3 linked regions of the Homo sapiens genome follow. The protein of the gene in region 3 purifies or fractionates together with the protein of the main gene of each other region. This does not show direct contact. Each region holds a gene or a part of one and is shown on either strand. Other genes may lie near its edges.

Region 1 (7,023 bases), on a different chromosome or scaffold from region 3:
CCTATGCATGTGTGTCTTACAGGTGAAGTGTTTATCTGAGCACTGTTTATTATATTTGAGCTGAATTTAGCCTACTGTGTTTAAAGGCAATAAAATGTTCATGCTGCATTATCACTAATTTTACTGTAACTCTCACTTCTGCATAGTATTAACAAAATAAGACTTAAAAATTGATGTTGGAATGTATTTCAGTATAGTCTGTGTTTTTAAAAACTTCTTAAAGGACCAGACACAGTTGGGAGGCTGAGGCGGGAGGATCGCTGGCCCAGGAGTTAAAGACTAGGCTAGGCAACATAGTGAGGCCCTATTTCTGTAGAAAATAAAAATAAATTATCCGGACCTGGTGGCATGTACCTGTAGTCCCAGCCACTTAGGATGCTGAGGCGGGAGGATCATGTAAGCCCAGGAGTTTGAGGCAGCAGTGAGCTATGATTATGCCACTGTGCTCCAGCCTAGACAACAGAGCAAGACAGCACTCTTTAAGGGAAAAAAAAGTTGCCAATGCATGTTTTGCTGATAGTTGTAAGGTTATTGGGCCTCAGTTTTTTGTCGCTTTATAAGGCAGCCTTTCTAAACTGAGTTCCAGAAAAGAATAAAGCCTTATTACTGCTCTGAAGTATCCACAGTGTATATAGCTAACTTCTCTCCTGTGATTCCAGAGTGATGCTTGTTATATACCATCCTTAGGAGAATTAACAAAATACTTACTTAAATCATTTTCTGTGTTTTTGGTTCAACAGAGAATCTCCATTGAGAAAGGCTGCTAAGAAGTTAACTTTATTCTCCACTATTTGTGAAGATTACCTACCTTGTGCTTAAGGCTACAATAAAACTAAAGCCTGTGTGATTTTTAATTAAACTCTAGCTTGAGAATCTTCACAAATAGAATGTTTGGCTTAAGTTTTTAAAGAGATGATTACAAATGAAAATCTAACGGAATGCTGGTAATGAGGCACTTGATTTTGAACTTCAATGAAATTGCACAGTAAACATTTCGTACAGTGTTCTACCTCGCTACTCCCAGTTTTTTTAATCCTTCTTCTTCGAAGGGCTAAATGGTGATTTTTTTTTTCTAATATCAGCCCTTCCTTCATAGCCTGTAGTTTCTATATTAAGGAAAATACCTCTTCATTTTGTGGCCCCTGAGTAAAATTTAGAGAAAAAATGTTTAATGACAGTCTATTACTTTTTCATATATTTAGTAAGACCTTGTCAAATGTGTTGCTTTGCATATATTAACTAAGGATTTTATAGTAATGGTACAAATAGCTGTGTTGTCTAGTTGAAAAAATACAAATGCAGGGAAAAACAAATATGCATGTTTTTGTAATAAGTGCTTTCATTAGTAAACCTTTATTTTATTTAGGCTATCAAGTACTAGCTCCAACTGCCTATTATGATCAGACTGGTGCCTTAGTGGTTGGCCCTGGAGCAAGGACTGGCCTTGGAGCTCCAGTTCGGTTAATGGCTCCAACACCTGTTTTAATTAGTTCAGCAGCAGCACAAGCTGGTAAGTGTAACTGACATTTTTAGGATAATATTTTTCTGGTGTTGAGATACCATTTTTAAAATACAGAATTTTCTGGGTGGTTTAAAGAAGTATCTGAAATTTATTTTACAGCAGCAGCAGCAGCAGCTGGAGGAACTGCAAGTAGCCTTACAGGCAGCACAAATGGTCTGTTTCGGCCAATTGGCACTCAGCCACCACAGCAGCAGCAACAGCAGCCAAGCACTAATCTGCAATCTAATTCATTTTATGGAAGCAGTTCTTTGACTAATAGCTCCCAGAGTAGTTCTTTATTTTCTCATGGACCTGGTCAACCTGGAAGTACATCTCTTGGCTTTGGAAGTGGTAACTCTTTGGGTGCTGCTATAGGCTCAGCCCTCAGTGGATTTGGTTCATCAGGTAAGTTTGTTTTTACGATGAGTGTACTCTGCTAAGTGGAAGAGGTATATGAGTGTGTTTAACATTAAAATAAGCAATAATAGCATGTAGGATAGGAAGGACAGGAATAAAGTATTGGACTACTGGTTTAATTTGTAGGAAAAAAAAATCCTGCAAATCTTTTCAACACTCACCAATGTTTAACTCACTATAGGCAGCCTGTTCTTTACTCATATATAATACATTTCCTTTTTCCCTGGCTCTAGGAATTGATTACTGTAATTTTTGTTTTAGTAGGGTTTATTTGGGTCAATATATTATTCACTAATTATTAGCTCATCTTCATTCACTACATAATGTTTGTGGAGGCAAATATTTTGCCGTCTTAAATTTTTGGTATTTTAAAGCAGTTATCTTTGTGTCCTTATTAGATGGTTTATTCTTATTAAATGCTGGTAGTTTATTACAGTTTTTAAATTTGGCCTAATATAAAAAATACATATGTGTATGTATAAATACTGAAATGTTCTACACAGAATCCCCTAAGAAGCTACCAGTATGGTTATCTTTTAGATTAAATAAGTTAGCCTTTGTCACTAAAAATTCACTTAAAAGGGTATCTATTCATGTATCTTAGCTTTATATAACACTTAACAAATCAAAATTTTAAATAGCTTCACTAAATAATTGACCCACTCAAACTGGTTCCTGGATCCTGTGGTAGAGGAAGAACTAAGTGAAATCAGAAGAGGCCCACGTTGACTTCTTGTTGATACACTTGGTGTTTTCTGTGAGGTTTCCACAGTACTCAGGAAACATTAGGGAAAAAACAGCTGACCCAGTTCTATCGGTGCAGCTGGCAGCTTTTACTTCATGAGGATAGGACTATTTGGACCTCAAGAGATTTTCTGTTTCTATAACATAACTTGCTACAGTCCTTAATATCTGTTTCTGATCTCTTTTCTTACCACATCAAATTATATTCTTTTCTGGTGTGGAAAATGGCAGAACTAACACATGCCAGGCATTATTAACAATGCTTGCCAGTTTTCTAAGGGAGTGTCTTCTGAACTTTTATCATTCATATATACAGGAAGGATGGTCTAGAACAGCCACAAACTTTTAGATGGCAGAATCTTTTTTCATTTATTGTAATGAAATACAATAAGTGGATGTCATATTGGACTGACACAAAATTATCTGAAGACTGCTCATAAGAATTTCTGAGGGAAAATCCAGTGAACATGGGGATTGTTAAATCTTTTCAATTTTGTACTTGAGTTTTTTCATTGCTTTTGGAGTTGTGTATCTCTTTGTCCACCTCACGCACTCCCATAGGACTCATTCCTTGTTTCTAACACAATTGGGACATTTTCTCCAAAGAATCCTAAATATTCTGAGGAAAACTGGAAGAACAAGTAACATAAAAAACAAACTTGTGGAAATAGTTTTTAAATTATAAATTGTAGGCCCTAAATAATTCAGAAAAAAGAGAGCATTGATTAAACCCCATGTTTCCTTTCTCACGTAGTATGTCACTGATCGTCTGGTTCAGATTTCTAGGCCCCTACTCAATTCTTTCAAATTTCCATTTGTTTCTTAGTTAAGGCTGTTTTCCCCCTTTCAGGAATTGATTGACATGAACATTTTGTCCACTACAGATGCCCTGTTTCCCCAAAACTAACCTTCACACCTCCATTATTTACAAGCATGGCTTACTTAATTCTGACTCCAATCTGTAAGAGCTTCATTTTACCTTGCTTTAGAGAGCATTAGTGATTGCCACCCCTGAATGCCAGTAAAGAGTCCATCGTATCTCTCCTCTTGGGCATTTTGTGGGAGTTTTTTCAAGTGCTATATATATGGACTCTTACAAGTTTGCACACTGCCTTTTCACATTATGGCAATTACATACTTACATGAGCTCTAAAACATAATATGGTTGTGTGCCTGTATACACATATACAAGTAACATACACAGTCCTTCTCTTACCTCTATGATGAAATTATTAATGTTTAACAGTGTTAAATACCCCATTTTATGATATAGTTGGCCAAGAAGCCTAAACATCGTAACATATAATTTAAATCATCTTTTCTATGACCTGTTATTTTTTAAAGTGTTGTTACAATTGAAAGTTTATAATTTAGCCTTTTTTCACAGTCGATGAATGATTAGCAGTCTGTCTACCCTCTTAGATATTTTAGGTACACTTTGTTTCATATCTCATAGTCATACTGTTGGAGATAATTTAGACATATAGTAAAACTTAAAGAGCCAGCTTCTTTATATTTAAGGTTATTTCTGAATTATTTTTAAATGTTTGGCTTGACTTTTCCTTTTTGGAGGAAAATAATATTGCATGTGTCAAAACTGGTTTCTTGGATTATTTGTCAGGGGAATAATGCTGCTCTTATTAGAGCTGTTGTCTTTTCATTGTCAGTTAAATTGTTTTCTGAAATAAATAGGAATTTAAAATGTAGCCATATTTTAGAAAAATCACTTTGACAGTGTCCTTTTAAATTAGCATAGTTAATGTAGCATACATTGCCAGTTTTACCAAAACCAACTCAAGAATAACTGTTTATTACATGTGCTTATAATTCACTTTTGCAATAAAAATGCATATAGACACCTAGTATTTTCTTACTATGATATCTTAAAATGTAAAATCTTCAACAAAACATGATCAGTCTCAGAAACTGCATTGGCTGGTATAAAAGGTTGAATAGCATTATAATCTTTTGCCTAATGTGGTAGCATAAGCCTGGTTTTTTTACCCCTTTATAGAATTTTGAATTTGGCAAAACCAACGTAATTAAGTTTTCCGTCTGTATTATACTCTTACCTTGGTCTACCCATGATGTACTCTCCTTAATTTTTTTCTTTATACCCTGTATGACCTATTTATATATGACTTGTGCTTAAATAAGATTTAATAGAAACTTAGATCCCTTGAAAAGCATTGCCATATTGGTCCGAATATAGAGCTTGTCATTTAAAAATGTATTTGGCAGGTTCAGAAATGTGGTTTGAAATTTTCTTAGATGTAAAAGTTATTCAGTTAAAAGAGGCTAGTGCTTAGAAATAGGAAGGAAACGTACTTGAATATATGGGCTTTAAGTGAGACTTGAGAACTGAGAGTTTGGACAGCCCTTAGAGATGCATGCTGTGGAATTTGATTATCCAGACAGGTGTTGATTAACAGCCAGATCTTGATTAGCTCTTCTGAGCATGTATAGCTCACCAGGGCCTACATGACCTTTATTTTCTGCACTATAAAAGGAAAAAGGATTAGAAGGATAATAGTTACATTTGATATTAAGTAAAAATTTGGTATGCATTGTATTAAGGGATGTAAAGTAAGAGAAATTGTGTATTATCAAATGACAAAAACCTGATCAGCCTTGAGTAAGGGGCTCAGGAGGCAGTAGTACTAGCATCTTAGGAGTAGAAGAGTCCTGTGGGATAAGTGAAAGTATGTCTTTGGTTTGATAACAGTGAGAGCTATTAATTTTAGAAAAGTCGAGTTACTTTGTAATGTAGTTAAAGAACAAGGGAGAATGCGTAGTGTAAAAAATACTGTTGAGTTAGCTGCTCACTGTATTTCACAACTGATCAATATTCGGGCCAATATGGACTTAAAGGGCTATGTTTTGAACACAGCTAGATGACAAATTAAATATGAATGGTGAAGGAAATGTACTAATTATTTATTCATATAATCTTTTCTTGGCATTGAGTTAAAGTCTAAGAAGCAGGTTTCAGAGATTAGGATACTATCAGAATTTAAACTTAATGGAATTTAATCTCTAGCATGTCCTAATGCAGACAACTTGCAATTCCAGGGTTTATAAATCATACCAGGGTATTAAAGCACAGTAATCAGATGTGTCAGTGGTAAATATGTGTGAAATAATGAATCATATGACTGCTCTGTTAAGTATTTGGTTCTTTATTGGGGTGCATTTATACCCTTTTATGATTAATAAGTTAGTATATATAGTTATCACAGTAATTATCTTCTCCAAAATGTTTCTAAAAATAATTATTGTGATCACTTCTGTTATTGCCCAGCGAGAGTTGGGGATAGATTTTATTCAGTTAACACTGTATGTAATTAGGGTTTTTTTTATTTCTTCTTCAGTTGGCAGTTCTGCAAGTAGTAGTGCCACAAGGAGAGAGTCTCTATCTACTAGCTCTGACTTGTACAAAAGATCTAGTAGCAGCCTAGCACCCATAGGGCAACCATTTTACAATAGTCTGGGATTTTCCTCCTCTCCAAGTCCAATAGGCATGCCTCTGCCAAGCCAAACTCCAGGACATTCACTTACGCCACCGCCATCACTTTCATCACATGGATCCTCATCCAGTTTGCATTTAGGTAAAAAAAAAACCAAAACCCTTTTTATTTGTATGTATACATGTATGTGTGTTTGTGTGTGTGTTTATAATATATGTAAAATATTTAATGTTGGTTAAAACATGCCAAATTGCTTTTGCTTTTAGATATTAGTCTTTTGAAAAAGTTCTACTTTCCTGAAAATTCAAAGTGAGGGTCTAATGTACAATAAGGTAAAGACCCCCCTATTGTTTCTTATGTTTTTTTTATGAAATATAATGGTGTGTTTTTTCTTGTCTGTGCTTTTGATTTGTGTGTTTTAGAGCATCTGAAAAGTCAACTATATAAACATAATAGTGAAAGAGAAATTTCACTATCAAAAGATTTGCACACCATAAGAAAAACATTAGTTACATAGCTACTGAACTAGGTTAGTACACTGGTTTTTGCTTTGGTCTTTCTATGCCTGGCCATTTTACCAGATAATTATTTCAGTGAATTTGAATTTAGTGTATTTGTCACTTAAGGAAGCTTATAGGCTTGGGCCATATACTTCTTTTTTGGATATGTTAAAGAAAAAAAATGTTTTAGGCTTGTTGTACCCCTGAAGTTGGAGCATTGAGAACTTTGTTTATATTTGTATATTAAAATTGTTCCCACCCCCAAATTATTAAATTGGTGATTACCTTTTTTCCCTCTCCAGGAAGTATTTATCCATGTAGATAATACGTTTTGAAGGGCTTTGGATATCAGGGGCTGTGTATGAATCCCTATCTTGTCAAAGAAATTATTTTT
Region 2 (7,147 bases), on a different chromosome or scaffold from region 3:
ATATAATATATACGATTGACTAATATGTCAAGTATCTTACTTAAAGATATTTTGAGGCTAGGCATGGTGACTCAAGCCTGTAATCCCAACACTGGGAGGCAGAGGCAGGCAGATCACTTGAGACCAGGAGTTCGAGACCAGCCTGGCCAACACAGCAAAACCCCGTCTCTACAAAAAACACAAAACTTAGCTAGGCATCATGGTGGTGCATGCCTGTAATCCCAGCTACTCGGGAGGCTGAGGCAGGAGAATCGCTTGAACCCGGGAGGCGGAAGTTGCAGTGAGCTGAGATCGTGCCACTGCACTCCAGCCTGGGAAACAGAGCAAGACAATGTCTCTAAAAAAAAAAAAAAAAAAATATATATATATATATATATATTTATATATATATATATATATATATTTATATATATATATACACACACACATATATATACACACACATATATACACACATATATACACATATATACACACACATATATACATATATGCACATATATACACACACATATATACATATATATGCACATATACACACACATATATATAGAGAGAGAGAGAGAGAGAAAGAGAGAGACTATCATCTCAATATAAACTTTCCATACAAACGGCAAGTTTTTTAAAAATATAAAATGTTAAGTGTTACAATTCAACTATTTTCTTCCCTTGGATAGTTTCATATAACTGGCAAATTAAACAGGTTTCCACTTTCAAGCCTCAAACCTTGGTAACAGTAAAGTTTACAAGGAGCCCAAATAAGATTTTTTTCCCCTTTTGTGTAAAAGGCCAGATAGAAGATATTTCGGTCTTTGTGGACTACTGAAATCTGTCACATATTACTATTTTTGTTTTACAATCCTTTAAAAATGTAAACCATTCTTGGCTGGTGGGCCGCCTTGGGCCTGCAGTAGTTTTCAGACCCTAGTATCACCACCTAGAGTGCTTGTAAAATGCAAATTCCTGGTCCCACTTCAGGCCTATTATTAATACATCAAATGACACGGATTGGGTCATTCTTCTGCACGCTAATTTCAAAGCCATAAGAAGTCAACATATAGCTAATAAAGGTTATATATAAGGTAAACTGATACTATTAACTTTAAGAACTTATTACCAGAGGCAAATGCTCTATTTCAGGCCTACATTCTCATGTATATTTTTTATGCAACCACGAAAATGTCATTTTCAAACTTTCTATACAAATGGCAAGCTTTTCAGACATTAAATACTAATCTTCAACATTTCATGTGTTTCTGGTTCACTGTTTCAAATGGTCTTTATACTCAATTTTTACTAGAGGCTCATTAGTTTTCTTTTGCTTCCCCTTCCTAAAACCAATACGGTGATGTGTACATAAATCTTAAATGTTTAACACACTTCCTGTTGCTTCCTAATACACGTACAGTATTTATTTATTTTACATGGAGTCTCACTCTGTTGCTCAAGATGAAGTGCAATGGCACGATCTCGGCTCACTGCAACCTCCGCCTCCCAGGTTCAAGCCATTCTCCTGCCTCAGGCTCCCGAGTAGCTGGGATTACAGGCGCCCGCCACCATGCCCCGCTAATTTCTTGTATTTTTAGTAGAGACGGGGTTTTGCAATGTTGGCCAGGCTGGTCTTGAACTCCTAACTTCAGGTGATCCACCTGCCTCAGCCTCCCAAAGTGCTAGGATTACAGGCGTGTGAGCCACCACGCCCGGCCAGTATTAATCTTTTCTTTCCCCCTTAAACCATGCAATCTCAAATGGGATTACCACCTCCATCTGTCCTCATTTTCCACCTCCCCAGGAGTTTAAGATTAGTGCCTGACAGATCTATGTTAGTGTATGAAGATACAATGTATGTAAAGTTTTCACAAGTCCCTGATAAAATTCACCTGGAATGCTTGTCGGACATATAGGTTCTTCCACTCCACCCACCCCTCTCCTGATTGTGATTTGGGAGGACTGGGGTGAGGCCTGGGACATAAAATCCATACAAACTCTTCAGGTGATCCTTGAGATTAGGCAATGGCTCCGCCACATTAGAGCCTCGATTATTTACCACTGACTATCCCACGTGTTGATAAACAATGTTTCTTATCAGCAATCAGGTGGATTCGAGGCACCCATCTAACCAAGTCAGAAATTGGAAGGAATGAAGTTTTGAACAAAAGAGGAGGAAAATTTTCAAAGCCAAATGCACATCAGATTCTTAAACAGGTGAGGAATTTCTCTCTTCTCTCTCAAATTAGAAATGAATTACTGTGATGCAAAAATCAGCAATACTGATCAACCATACGCTTCACACTTCTACTCGGAAGGTTCGGCAGTTTTCTTTCCAAATCAACCGGAAACGAAATCTTCCACTGTCTCAATTCAACAATAAAGCCTCTCCTACGACTTTGCCAGACACAAAGTGATACCTTCCATCAGACTTCGTCCTCCCTTAGATCACAAGCTAAAGAAGGCGACTGGTTGTAATGGAACACAACCTTTATAATTAGATGGAAAAAGAATAAAAACCGCCATTCTGCCAGCTGTACTAACTTCTTCACTTCAGAAACTGGCTCAACAGTTTCCACTCGCGATTATGAAGTGTGGCACGCAATGAACCCTCAGCTTAGTTCCCCTTCCAGTCACGTCCTTCCCAATGGGAAAGGAGAAAGCGCAGGCTCGCGGGGGGCTGGGCTGGGCAAGGGGAGCGAGAAGCGAGGACTGGACGGAGGCGAGAGAGGAGAGAGAAGGGGCAGGTAAGGTGAAGGGGGTGAGCTGGGGCCAGCACAAGAGGCCCAGACGGCCTCCGCCCCCGAGGATACACGGCCAGAGCTCAGGGACCAAGAGGCGAGAAGACCAGAGCGCGGCGGCTATTACCTGCGTCCGAGGAGCTGCGGCGGGGTTAGGACCGCAGTGAGCTCCTCGCAGCTGCGGCCGCCCACCGACGCACCCCACGCCTGGCCGCAGCCCCAGCCTCTCTGCGCCCAGCCTCGCCACGCCATCTTCCCAACCTCTGCCCCACCATGGCCCGACCTTACCAACCCCAGCTGCGCAACTACTTCCGGGGCGAAGGCAACACCATAGAGCACGAGGAGCAGTCTAGAGCGCCCCCGCGCGGCTGAGCGGCAGCCGAACCAGCCACGGTGCCCGGACGACTGGCTGGCGCCCTTCTGTCCCACCGCTTCCCCTCCCACTGCTCAGCTGGCTCCGGGAGCGACCTGCGAGAGTGGCCCGGCCTCCCGGCATTTGCAGATGAGGAGGATGGGGCCAGAGCGAAGAGGGACAACTGTCATTTTTTCGAGTAACGGCACATACCAGGCGCTTTGCCTAAGATCGCATTTAATCGTCACAGCACTGCTAGAGGTAGATGTCATCACTGTTTCACTTTGCCTCTGGTCAGAGGGGATAGGACTTGCCCGGAGTTGCAGGGCTGGTCCCTAGAGGAACCAACGTGGCAAGCCAAGTTTTCTTAAATTACTACTTTTTTCTGCATCTCACCACTTCGTGTTATTCTGTATGCCTTTAACAAAGTCCAAGCCTATCGGGCGGGGTGGCTCACCCCTTTAATCCCAGCACTTTGGGAGGCCGAGGCCGGCGGATCACCTGAGGTCAGGAGTTCGATACCAGCCCGGCCAACATGGTGAAACCCCGTCTCTACTAAAAATACAAAAATTAGCCGGGCATGGTGGCAGGGGCCTGTAATCCCAGCTACTCAGTTGGCTGAGGCAGGAGTATTGCTTGAACCTGGGAGGCGGAGGTTGCAGTGAGCCGAGATTGGACCACTGCACTCCAGCCTAGGTGACAGAGCGAGATCCGTCTCAAAAAAATTACAAATACAAATACAAAAATTAGCTGGGCGTGGTGGCGCAAACCTGTAATCCCAGCTACTCGAGAGGCTGAGGTGGGAGAATCACTTGAACTCGGGAGGTTGCAGTGAGCCGATATCGTGCCAGCCTGGGCAACAGAGTGAGACCCTTTCTCATAAATAAATAAGTAAATAAACACAAAATCCAAGCCTGAAATGAAAAGCGGGCTTTCACTTTTTCATAATCCATCCCTCAACTACCTGTCAGTTAGCTTGATTCCCTGCCATTCCATTCCCCCCGACCCTAGCTGCAGCCATACAGTCATTGGCCATTACTCAAAGGCACCATCCGCGTTCCCACTGCTGAGCATTCATGCTACCGTTCTCACCACTTGAAACATCTAACCGACTTGTCCTTCAGGTCAGCCTCAAGTGTCACCTCTTCCAGGAGGCCTTTCCCAGACCTCCACTCCAATTTAGATTCCCTTCCTTTGTACTCACATACCGCTTTATGCTTATCTCTGCAATAGCACTTCATTCATTCCATAAGCTCTTATTAAGCACCTACAGTGTGTCAGGTGATATGTTAAACCTGGGGATACAATTGAGAAGACACTATATCTGACCTCACAAAGATTCTATTGTATTGGGGGAGAAGGCTCTGTAGGAGTCTAGAGAGGGGGGATATAGCCCAATTGAAGGAAGGGGCATGGGAGGCTCAGGGAGAAGGCTTCCCAGAGAAACTGATAGAGGTCACCAAGAGAAGAGGATTGAAGTGTTCCTCAGAAAGAATAGCATTTGTGATGTCTCCCAGCGCACGACTTGTTTGAAAAACTAAAATAAATTCACGCCTTTTCCACACAACCCAGAGAGGGGCCCATACGGCATTGTTCTAGATTCTCTGTGGGCGGCAAGCCATCCAGGTGCCGAGGCAAGAGACCAAGGGCACGAGCTGTTCCAGTATAATAAAATATATAAAACAACAAGAGTTATACTAGATCTAGATCATAGACGTGATTATATATGAATATCATTAATCATCAGTTTGTAGCAATTATTCTTTATTCCAATATTATAATAATCCTCGCTCTATAATCATAACCTAGGAAAAACCGGGCCATACAGAGGCAGGAGCTGAGGGGACATAGTGAGGAGTGACCAAAAGACAAGAGTGCGAGCCTTCTATTATGCCCAGACAGGGCCACCAGAGGGCTCCTTGGTCTAGGGGTAATGCCAGCGTCTGGGAAGATGCCCGTTGCCAAGCAGACTGTGGTCTAGCGGTAGCATGTCAAGGAAAAACACCTGCTACTTAGTAGTCCCTGGGGGAGTTTAGAGAAGACTCTACTCCTCCACCTCTTGTGGAGGGCCTGACATTAGTCAGGCTTTCCCGCAGTTATCCGGAGGCCTAACCGTCTCCCTGTGATGCTGTGCTTCAGTGGTCACGCTCCTAGTCTGCCTTCGTGTTCCATCCTGTACACCTGGCTCTGCCTTCTAGATAGCAGTAGCAAATTAGTGAAAGTACTAAAAGTCTCTCATAATGGTGTAAGTTGTTTCTCTCTTTGTCTCCTCTCTCTCTCTGCCTCGGCTGCCAGGCAGGGAAGGGCCCCCGTCCAGTGGACACGTGACCCACGTGGCCTTACCTATCATTGGAGATGGCTCACTCTCCTTATCCTGCCCCTTTGTCTTGTATCCAATAAATATCAGTGCAGCCTGGCATTTGGGGCCACTACCGGTCTCCGTGTCTTGGTGGTAGTGGTCCCCCGGGCACAGCTGTCTTTTCTTTTATCTCTTTGTCTTGTGTCTTTATTTCTACGCTCTCTCGTCTCTGCATGTGGGGAGAGACCCACCGACCCTGTGGGGCTGGTCCCTACAATTCTCATTGTAACTTAAAGGGAAACTTTCACAATGTCTAGAGCCCTTGATGTCCTGCAAATGAAGGAGGAGGATGTCCTTAAGTTCCTTGCAGCAGGAACCCACTTAGGTGGTACCAACCTTGACTTCCAAATGGAGTAGCACATCTGTAAGAAGAAAAGTGATGGCGTCTACATCCTACATCTGAAGAGGACCTGGGAGAAGCAAGAAGTTTCTGCTGGCAGCTCGTGCCATCGCTGCCTTTAAAAACCCTGTTGATGTCAGTGTCATGTCCTCTAGCAATACTGGCCAGAGGGCTGTGCTGAAGTTTGCTGCTGCCACTGGAGCCACTCAAATTGTTGGCCGCTTCACTCCTGGAACCTTCACTAGCCAGACCCAGGCAGCCTTCAGGGAGCCACGGCTTCTAGTGGTTACTGATCCCAGGGCTGACCACCAGCCTCTCACAGAGACATCTTATGTTAACCTACCTACCATTGCTCTATGTCACACAGATTTTCCTCTGCGCTATGTGGACATTGCCATCACATGCAACAACAAGGGAGCTCCCTCAGTGGGTCCGAGCTGGTGGATGCTGGCCCTGGAAGTTCTGCGCGTGTGTGGCACCATTTCCCTCGAACACCCATGGGAGGTCATGCCTGATCTCTACTTCTACAGAGATCCTGAAGAGATTGGAAAAGAGGAGCAGGTTGCTGCTGAAAAGACTGTGACCAAGGAGGAATTTCAGGGCAAATGGACTGCTCCAGCTCCTGAGTTCACCGCTATTCAGCCTGAGGTTGGAGACTGGTCTGATGGTGTACAGGTGCCCTCTGTGCCTATTCATCAGGTCCCTACTGAAGACTGGAGTGCTCAGCCTGCCACAGAAGACTGGTCTGCAGCTCCCACTGCTCAGGCCACTGAATGGGTAGAAACAACCACTGAATGGTCTTAAGCTGTTCTTGCACAGGCTCTTAAGCAACATGGAAATAACGTTGATGGAAAATACACATCAGTTTCTAAAAAATAAATTCACTTTGGTTATATCAGAGGTGTCAAGTCTGGGATTTGATTTTACCCTATTTGCAAGCTAAAAGATTGGATGTTGGCAAAAGACAGGAGACTCCTGGGTCAGAGACAAAACACTTTATATTACCACGGCATGTTCTCCAAGTCCCATGGTGGCAATGCCATGAGCCAAATGGATGAAGAACATGCAGTGGATTTGCATCTCAACCAAAGAATACTGAGCCTGGGGAATCTACTGTTTAATAGTGAGTTTTTATAGTAAACAAGCGAACAATCTTGAAAGGTAGAGATGTTTTCCTCAAGAGCAAAGGGCAGTTGGCTTATAACCTTGGAAGAAAGATAATATCACCCTAGAGAGCACAGGCTTGTGTGCTGCCTATCATAAAAGATTCTAATGCCATGACGGGGCATAGGGGCTCATGCCTGTAATCCCAGTATTTTGGGAGGCCGAGGTGGGTGGATCACTTGAGGCAAGGAGTTCAACGCCAG
Region 3 (7,869 bases):
TGTACACATACTTTATTTTACAACTAAGGAAAACAGAGGCCCCAAAATGAAAGATTTCTGCAGAACCATTCAGCTAGTTGAAGGCAGGGCCTAAATCAATGATTTGAATACCTGTATGACATAGGGGAATGGACCTACAACAATGGGAATGTATAGAAGGCCGGGTGTGGTGGCTCACACCTGTAATCCCAACATTTTGGGAGGCTGAGGTGGGTGAATCACCTGAGGTCAGGAGTTCGAGACCAGCCTGGCCAACCTGGTGAAACCCCCTCTCTACTAAAAATAAGAAAAATTAGCTGGGCATGGTGGCAGACGCCTGTAATCCCATCTACTCAGGAAGCTGAGGCAGGAGAATCCCTTGAACCCAGAGGTGGAGGTGGAGGTGGAGGTTGCAGTGAGCCGAGATCGTGCCATTGCACTCCAGCCTGGGCAAAAAAAAAAAAAAGAGAATGTATAGAAAGAAAATAAAATACAAGAAGTGAAAAAAGGATTCTCGGAGGGATAACTCTCAGCTGCCAATTTGTACCCCCAAGGACCTAACCACTCTTTCCTCTGCACACCCCTGCGAAGTCCCTACACACTGCTCCATTTCCAAATATCACTATCTTTAGCCAGTTTGAAGGCAACCAACAGATAATAGGCCCCAGGAGTAAATGAGGGAAAGGGACGGGGGTCTCACTATTAACTAGGATTGACAGAAATGATAAATGAATACATACACACACACACACACACACACACACACACACCAAGTAGAACCTGCTCACCAGCACCTACATCCAGTCTTCCCTCCTTATCATCCAATATTAGCTCACCTCACCTGAAGTCTCCCACATTCCTGTCTTTTTTGCCATGGCCCTGAGCTTTTACTTCTCACAATCCCTCTGCCTGACAGAGTTCTAATGGAAAATAAAAGCAGGCAAACAAAACAAAAGAATTCAAAAATAAACACCAAGAGGGTCACTTTACCTAAATCAACAGAAGTAACAGGGTAAACTCTGCAAAGGAGACCAAGAAGCATACAACAAACATGCTAGGCTTAAGTACAGCTCTGTCCCTAACACAGGAAGTCAGGCAGAGGCTTGAAAAGCAGGGAGCAGAGCACAGGAAGTCTTTTAGCACTGCAGAGATTTCCAAGAGTGGTGTAATGGAGACAGCACAGGAATAGGAATTAGAAGACCAGGCTTCTAGTTCTAGTTTTACTATTAGCTAACTGGGTGGCCTTACCCAAGTCACCATCTTCTCTGGACTTCTGATTCCCCATCTATAAAATAAGGTGGTTAAAACAAGCTGGGACTTGAATCTCCTCCAAAAAAAACAAAGATGAAAACTATTGACTCTCCTCCACCAAAAAGTGCACATCACCTACTATGAGTAAGAATCTTCCAAGTCTTCCCAGGTTAAGAACCCCTGGAAAAGATGATGTCTAGTCCTCCTAGCATCCCTCTAACATCCTATGACTCCGAGAGAATTAGGCACAAGTCTGCACAACTGTTGGTAGGTGAGACTCATCATGTCATAGCAGTATTTTCTGGGCAAAGACCAAATCGTAAAACCTCCAAAGGTTTCAAGGTCTTCTTCAAAACTATGAAGTCAGCTGACATCAATACCTTTCCCATTCCCTACCCAAATTAACCACGTTTATCTTTCAATCCAGAATTGAGAATCCAGTCTTCTAATAGCCCTATAAAAAAATTTTTTTTATAGCCCGGGACATTAAAGAGCTATTTTGTGTCCTGGTGATGTAGAATGCAATTGGCAAAGAACAGGAGGGACATGTCTAGTGTCTCCCTTCAGACTCATTAGTATGCTCCACAAAGTAAATGAGACTGAGCACCACCGTGTCCCCATAACATTACCAAACTCCTTGTACTTCTCACACTCTGTGTGATTTAACCCACAATCTCAGCCACATCCCCTCGGGGCTCTCTCGAGGAGTTTTCTTTTCACTCCTCTCATTGAAATGCCACTTCTCTTCCCCATCCCAGCGTGTGCCCAGGGCTGCCAAAAGGTACTCCCTCTTCTCGGGAGGTTTCCCACCAGATCTCCTTTTCCTCGACTCAGTCCAGAGAAGCCAGGATTTCCCGGCTTCCACTCCACCCCAAGGCACTAAGGAAGGATTTGAAAAAATGGAATCCATCTCAACCTTGTTCGATTTCCCCCCAAAACCTATCCACTCGTCGTGCCTCCTGGCCCCTCAGGAATCAGGACCCTCTCGGGCACACCAGGTTCAGTCCTGCAACCTTCGTTCCTAGCCCGAGCTCGCCCCACCTTCCAACCAGGCCCCGAATGGCCCCCCATCCCACCTCCAACCCAGGACTCCCGGAGGCCCTCCCTCTCTCCAAGCCGGGGAGCCCGGTGTCGACCCTCACGCCCACCCCCGCAATAACTGGGCGCCCCGTCCCGCGCGGTCACCTGCATCCCGCCGCCACCGTCGGCCGCCGCCTCCTCAGTGCGCGGCCGCTTGCTCAGGCCGGGATCGGCTCCGTCTCCTCCCGCTCCGGGCACCGGCAGCTCCAGCTCCGACTCCCGCTTCATGCCCCGGGCGGCGGCGCCGGGCCCGAGCTGAGGCGGCTGATGCGGCTGGGCGCCCTCCGCCATCCGCCCGCGCCCCCCTCGCCTCCGGGAGCCGGGCGACCCGCGACAGGCCACCTCCCCCTGGGCCTCGGCCCCGACTGTCGCGACAGGCGGGCGCGCGCCTGCCCCCGCCCCCGCGTGCGTGCGTGCGTGCGCGCGAGCGGACTCCGCGCCCCTCCGCGCCTCGCGGCCGCCGCTCCTTGCCTGACCGCTTGCTCCCCGCCCGCCCGCCCGCCGGGTTGTCGGCGCGGGGCCACTGGCGGGTCGTGATGAGCACTCGCTCGCGCCCCCGCACGCACACGCGAAACCCGGCCCGGCCCGCCGCGCCGCCCCGCCTCTCGCACTCCCGGAGCTCGCCCACCGGCCGCGCTGGCTCACACTCTCCCTCACAGCACGCCGGCCGAGGGAGGAAGGGGGCGGTCCGGGCTCCCGAGGCGTGGGGAGGGCTGTTTATTTTGGGGGGAGGAGGGGCGCGAGGCAGGAACGAGCTGACTGGCCGGGATCCTCCGACCCGCCACTGTGGCAGCACCGGGAAGGCGGGGAGAGAGAAAGAGGGAGGGAGGGAGGGACCGGGATGTAGAACTCCAGCCCGCGCGGGAGGCTACGGCGAGGGGGGCGGTGGCGGCCCGCGGGGGGGGCGGGGCCAGGCCCCCTCGGCAATCTCCGTAGTCTCCTCGCTGGCTGCCCGAGGGAGGCCGGGAAGCGATCGGGGAAGCTCGGGAATCTCCGGCACGGGCCTGGGATTGTCCTGGAGGCACAGCGCGGCTGGAGTGCGGGGCAGCGCGGGGGGGGCGGGGTCTGTCTCCTTTCTGGGCGGGGCCGTATCCTGGAGCAGGCGGGGCTTGAGAGACCCGAAGGCCAGGGAGTGGCTCCTGCTTGCGGTACTAGTTGTACAGAGTTAAGTCCTGAGTTTACTCGCCTGAGCACCTTGGTTCCCGGAGAGGGAATGGGCACTCTGTGAGAGGCAGGCTATTTGCCTGCTTCCCCTCCCGCAGAAGAAAAAATGTCTCAAATTGGAAGGTCGAGGAATGAAGCCACCCCTCTATGGTTCACCCCAGTTCTGAGAGCTTTTACTCTAATATAACTCACATTCCTAATGAAGTTAGTAATAATACCCGATGTTTGTAAGAGCTTTAGAGTTTGCACAATGCATCCACAGACCCGTTTCAAACTGGTGATATAAGTAGATACCATGATCTCCATTTCATTGATGATGAAACTGAACCTTAGTTAAATCCTGCAGCAAAAAAGTGGCAGATCCGGAATTCAGAACACGAGAACATATTCTCTTTCTTCGTACCTTGCTGCCTGAGGAGCACTTTATGACTTACCAACTTCGTGGAGATAGAGATATCTGTGCAATAGATTCTCTCCCCTACCAGACTGTGAGGACAAGGACTGCAGTGACTTCCTCTGAGTTCCATATCGTGCCCTGTACGTTATAGAAATAAAAGGATATTGCGTGAATAACCTGGATTCTAATCTTGGCTTTGCTAACTAGCTTAAACAAGTTACTTCATCTCTTTGGACCTCAGCTCCATCATTTGTAAAATGAGATGGTTTGGATCAGTGGCTTTCAACCAAGGAGAAATTTTGCCATTCCACCACCTCCACTCCCACATTTGTCAGTGACTGAAGGCATTTTTTTTTTTTTTTTTTTTTTTTTTTTTGAGACAGAGTCTCGCTCTGTCGCCCAGGCTTAAGTGCAGTGGCGCGATCTCGGCTGACTGCAACCTCTGCCTCCTGGGTTCAAGCGATTCTCCTGCCTCAGCCTCCCCAGTAGCTGGGACTACAGGTGTGCGCCACCAACTAATTTTTGTATTTTTAGTAGAGATGGGGTTTCACCATGTTGGCCAGGCTGGTCTCGAACTCCTGACTTCAGGTGATCCGCCTGCCTCGGCCTCCCAAAGTGCTGAGATTACAGGAGTTAGCTGCCGCGCCTGGCCGACTGAAGGCATTTTTGATTGTTACAGTGGGGAGGTGCTGCTGGCATCTAGTGTGTAGAAGCCAGGAATGTTGCTTGACATCCTATCATGCACAGGACGGTCCCCCCAGGAGAGTTATCCAACCCCAAATGTCAATAGTGCGGAGGTTGAGAAACGCTGGGTTAGATGATTTCCAAGGTCATTTCCAACCAGTGTGTGATTTGGCCTTTGAACCTGGGTTTAACCTGGCTGGGGCTGGAACAGTACAACAGTAAAGATCCCTGCTTCAGAGTCAGACCAACCCAGATGAGAACGCAGGCTTCCCACCTCCTGCCCACGTAATCTGGGACCAGTGGTGACTAAGAACTTCCATATAAAAGGTGTTTGGGGATTGCAGACTGGTTGGAAGGGAAGTCGGGAGGACTTGCCTTGAAGGTGAGTTGTTGTATTGAGCATATTGTTTGTATTACTTAGGCTGTGTTATAAATCAGTAAAAATAGCAGAGTTTTAGCTCTGCCACCTGCAAGTCATGATGCCTTGTGACAGCTACTTACCCCCTCTGTGTCTCAGTTTCTTCATCTGCAAATTAGGATAACAATAATACCTTCCTGAAAAGATTATTGTAAGAATTTAATGTTATCACGTTTAGAACTTTGAACGGAATGATTTAGGATAAGCGCTCCATAAGTGTTACAGCTAACACTTATAGCTAACTAATAATAGCTTATTAGTAGTACCATTATCACTTTATTCACTTTTTTTTTTTCAGATGGAGTCTCGCTCTGTCACCCAGACTGGAGTGCAGTGGTGTGATCTCGGCTCACTGCAACCTCCACCTCCTGGGTTCAAGCAATTCTTGTGCCTCAACTTCCCAAGGAGCTGTGATTACAGGCGCCCACCACCACGCCCGGCTAATTTTTTGTATTTTTAGTAGAGACAGGGTTTCACCATGTTGGCCAGGCTGGTCTCGAACTCCTGACCTCAAGTGATTCCCCCCCTTTGGCCTCCCGAAGTACTGGGATTACAGGCATGAACCACCAGGCCTGACCTTTATTCACATTTTAAATGAGAGTGAAAAAACATTCATTGTCAAGATCAAAGAATATCATTATCATTATTATTGGGTTTTTTTTAATTATGTAAGGTGACTTGAGTGGGGCTGCTAGAGATTCACATGCGGCAAGCAAAGCACCCCAGTAACCCCTTGGTGCAACCACTATGCTGGGCAAATTACTTTGTTTCACTAAGCCTTCCATTCCTCATTTGTAGGATAACAATAATAGTCACAGTGTTGTTCTAAGGATTAAATGGGACAAAAGTAAACACTTAGCACAGTGCCTAACATAGTAACTGCTTAATAGGTGGTAATTATTCATCAACTAATTTGGTTAGTGATACAGTAAGCTTAACCAGGGGCCTTGGAAAGAGAAGCCTTAAACAACTTCTTCTTCTTCTTCTTCTTTCTTCTTTCTTCTTTCTTCTTTCTTCTTTCTTCTTTCTTCTTCTTTCTTCTTCTTCTTCTTCTTTTTTTTGAGACAGGATCTCACTGTCTCCCAGGCTGGAGTGCAGTGGCCCAATCTCAGCTCACTGCAACCCCCGCCTCCCAGATTCAAGCGATTCTCCTGCCTCAGCCTGCCAAGTAGCTGGGATTAGAGTCACGCACCACCATGCCCAGCTAACTTTGTGTATTTTTAGCAGAGACAGGGTTTCACCATGTTGGTCAGGCTGGTCTCAAACTCTTGGCCTCAACTGATCCTCCCGCCTCAGCCTCCCAAAGTGCTGGGATTACAGGCGTGAGCCACCACGCCCAGCCCTGACACATCTCTTAGTATTATTATTTGGACCACCAAGGTGGAAGTCCAAGTGCCTACAAGCTTGTTCTTGTGCTGAATTAGCCCCAACCTAAGTCAGCGGTTTCCACTTGGCAGTACCCCACAACCTGATCCTGTTCAACCAAGCAGTATGGCTTTGAGGGATAACCAGGATATTTCCTGGTGGCCTATGAAACAACAGCGGGTTTTGTCTTTTTTTTTTTTTTCTTTAACCTAGGGACATCAGCAGTTGGTCTTCTGAAATTTTTACTTATTGAACTGGTAGCATAAGAATTCTCCCTTCCCAACTGGGCATGGTGGCTCACACCTGTAATCCCAGCACTTTAGGAGGCCGAAGCGGGCAGATCACTTGAGGTCAGGAGTTCAAGACCAGACTGGGCAAAATGGTGAAACCCCATTTCTACTAAAAATACAAAAAATTTAGCCAGGTGTGGTGACAGCTGCCTGTAATCCCAGCTACTCAAGAGGCTGAGCCAGTAGAATTGCTTGAATCTGGAAGGCAGAGGTTGCAGTGAGCCGATATCGCGCCACTGCATTCCAGCCTGGGCTACAGAGTGAGACTCTCTCTCCAAAAAAAGAGAATTCTCCCTTCCCTGCTTGCCTTGCCAAACTACTGAAATCTTAATGATGTTAGATCTTCCTGGGCTGTCCCCTGACCCAGCAAGAAATGAGATTTGAGATCGGGGCTGCCAGTGACTCAAATTTTTGTTATTCAGGTAACGCTCAAGTCCCTTAGAAACAGAGCAATGCAGTATAGAAATGTCTGAATGACCAGGCAGAACAAAGAAAAATTGGACCCTGCCCTGGAAACAAGCATTATGTATTTAAGGAGAAAGAGGAGAGTTAAACGCCTACAAATCATAGAAGAGGCAAAATGCATCCATGGCAGCACAAAGACCAGATCATTTCTTTTCTTTTTTTTTTCTTTTTTTTTTTTTTTTGAGACAGAGTCTTGCTCCGTTGCGCAGGCTGGAGTGCAGTGGTGCAATCTTGGCTGACTGCAAGCTCCGCCTCTCGGGTTCACGCCGTTCTCCTGCCTCAGCCTCCCGAGTAGCTGGGACTACAGGCGTCTACCACCACACCCGGCTAATTTTTTGTATTTTTAGTAGAGACAGGGTTTCACCATGTTAGCCAGGATGGTCTTGATCTCCTGACCTCATGATCCGCCCGCCTCGGCCTCCCCAAATGCTGGGATTACAGGCGTGAGCCACCGTGCCCGGCCGATCATTTCTTTTATATACATCTGCAGCCATTTGTTTAGAAGCAGGTAGTTAGGAAACATTACAGAGGAAGAGGACATTAAATATTTTCGGTCACTGGCTCATGCCTGTAATCCCAGCACTTTGGGAGGCCGAGGCAGGCAGATCACCTGAGCTCAGGAGTTCGAGACCAGCCTGGCCAACATGGCAAAACCCCGTCTCTACTAAAAAATACAAAAATTAGCTGGGTGTGGTGCCGTGCACTTGTAATCCCAGTTACTCAGGAGGCTGAGGCAGGAGAATAGCTTGAACTCAGGAGGACAGAGGTTGCAGTGA

What was found.
Region 1: the proteins of RBFOX2 (region 3) and PUM2 purify together in Homo sapiens (affinity purification with mass spectrometry; 3 studies listed by BioGRID and IntAct, with this or other methods). This does not show direct contact.
Region 2: the proteins of RBFOX2 (region 3) and PARL purify together in Homo sapiens (affinity purification with mass spectrometry; 3 studies listed by BioGRID and IntAct, with this or other methods). This does not show direct contact.

Annotation. Positions count from the first base shown.
Region 1 is NC_000002.12:20,277,830-20,284,852, reverse strand, and holds part of PUM2 (pumilio homolog 2), read left to right. Parts: intron 1-1,366; coding exon 1,367-1,510; intron 1,511-1,621; coding exon 1,622-1,906; intron 1,907-6,033; coding exon 6,034-6,270; intron 6,271-6,395; coding exon of another isoform or gene 6,396-6,442; exon of another isoform or gene 6,443-6,551; coding exon of another isoform or gene 6,552-6,646; exon of another isoform or gene 6,647-7,023. UniProt on the Homo sapiens protein: Sequence-specific RNA-binding protein that acts as a post-transcriptional repressor by binding the 3'-UTR of mRNA targets.
Region 2 is NC_000003.12:183,881,866-183,889,012, forward strand, and holds the start of PARL (presenilin-associated rhomboid-like protein, mitochondrial isoform 1 precursor), read right to left. Parts: upstream 3,016-7,147; 5' UTR 2,982-3,015; coding exon 2,857-2,981; intron 1-2,856. UniProt on the Homo sapiens protein: Required for the control of apoptosis during postnatal growth. Essential for proteolytic processing of an antiapoptotic form of OPA1 which prevents the release of mitochondrial cytochrome c in response to intrinsic apoptotic signals.
Region 3 is NC_000022.11:36,025,825-36,033,693, forward strand, and holds the start of RBFOX2 (RNA binding protein fox-1 homolog 2), read right to left. Parts: upstream 3,001-7,869; 5' UTR 2,602-3,000; coding exon 2,416-2,601; intron 1,260-2,415; exon of another isoform or gene 1,240-1,259; coding exon of another isoform or gene 1,228-1,239; intron 1-1,227. UniProt on the Homo sapiens protein: RNA-binding protein that regulates alternative splicing events by binding to 5'-UGCAUGU-3' elements. Prevents binding of U2AF2 to the 3'-splice site.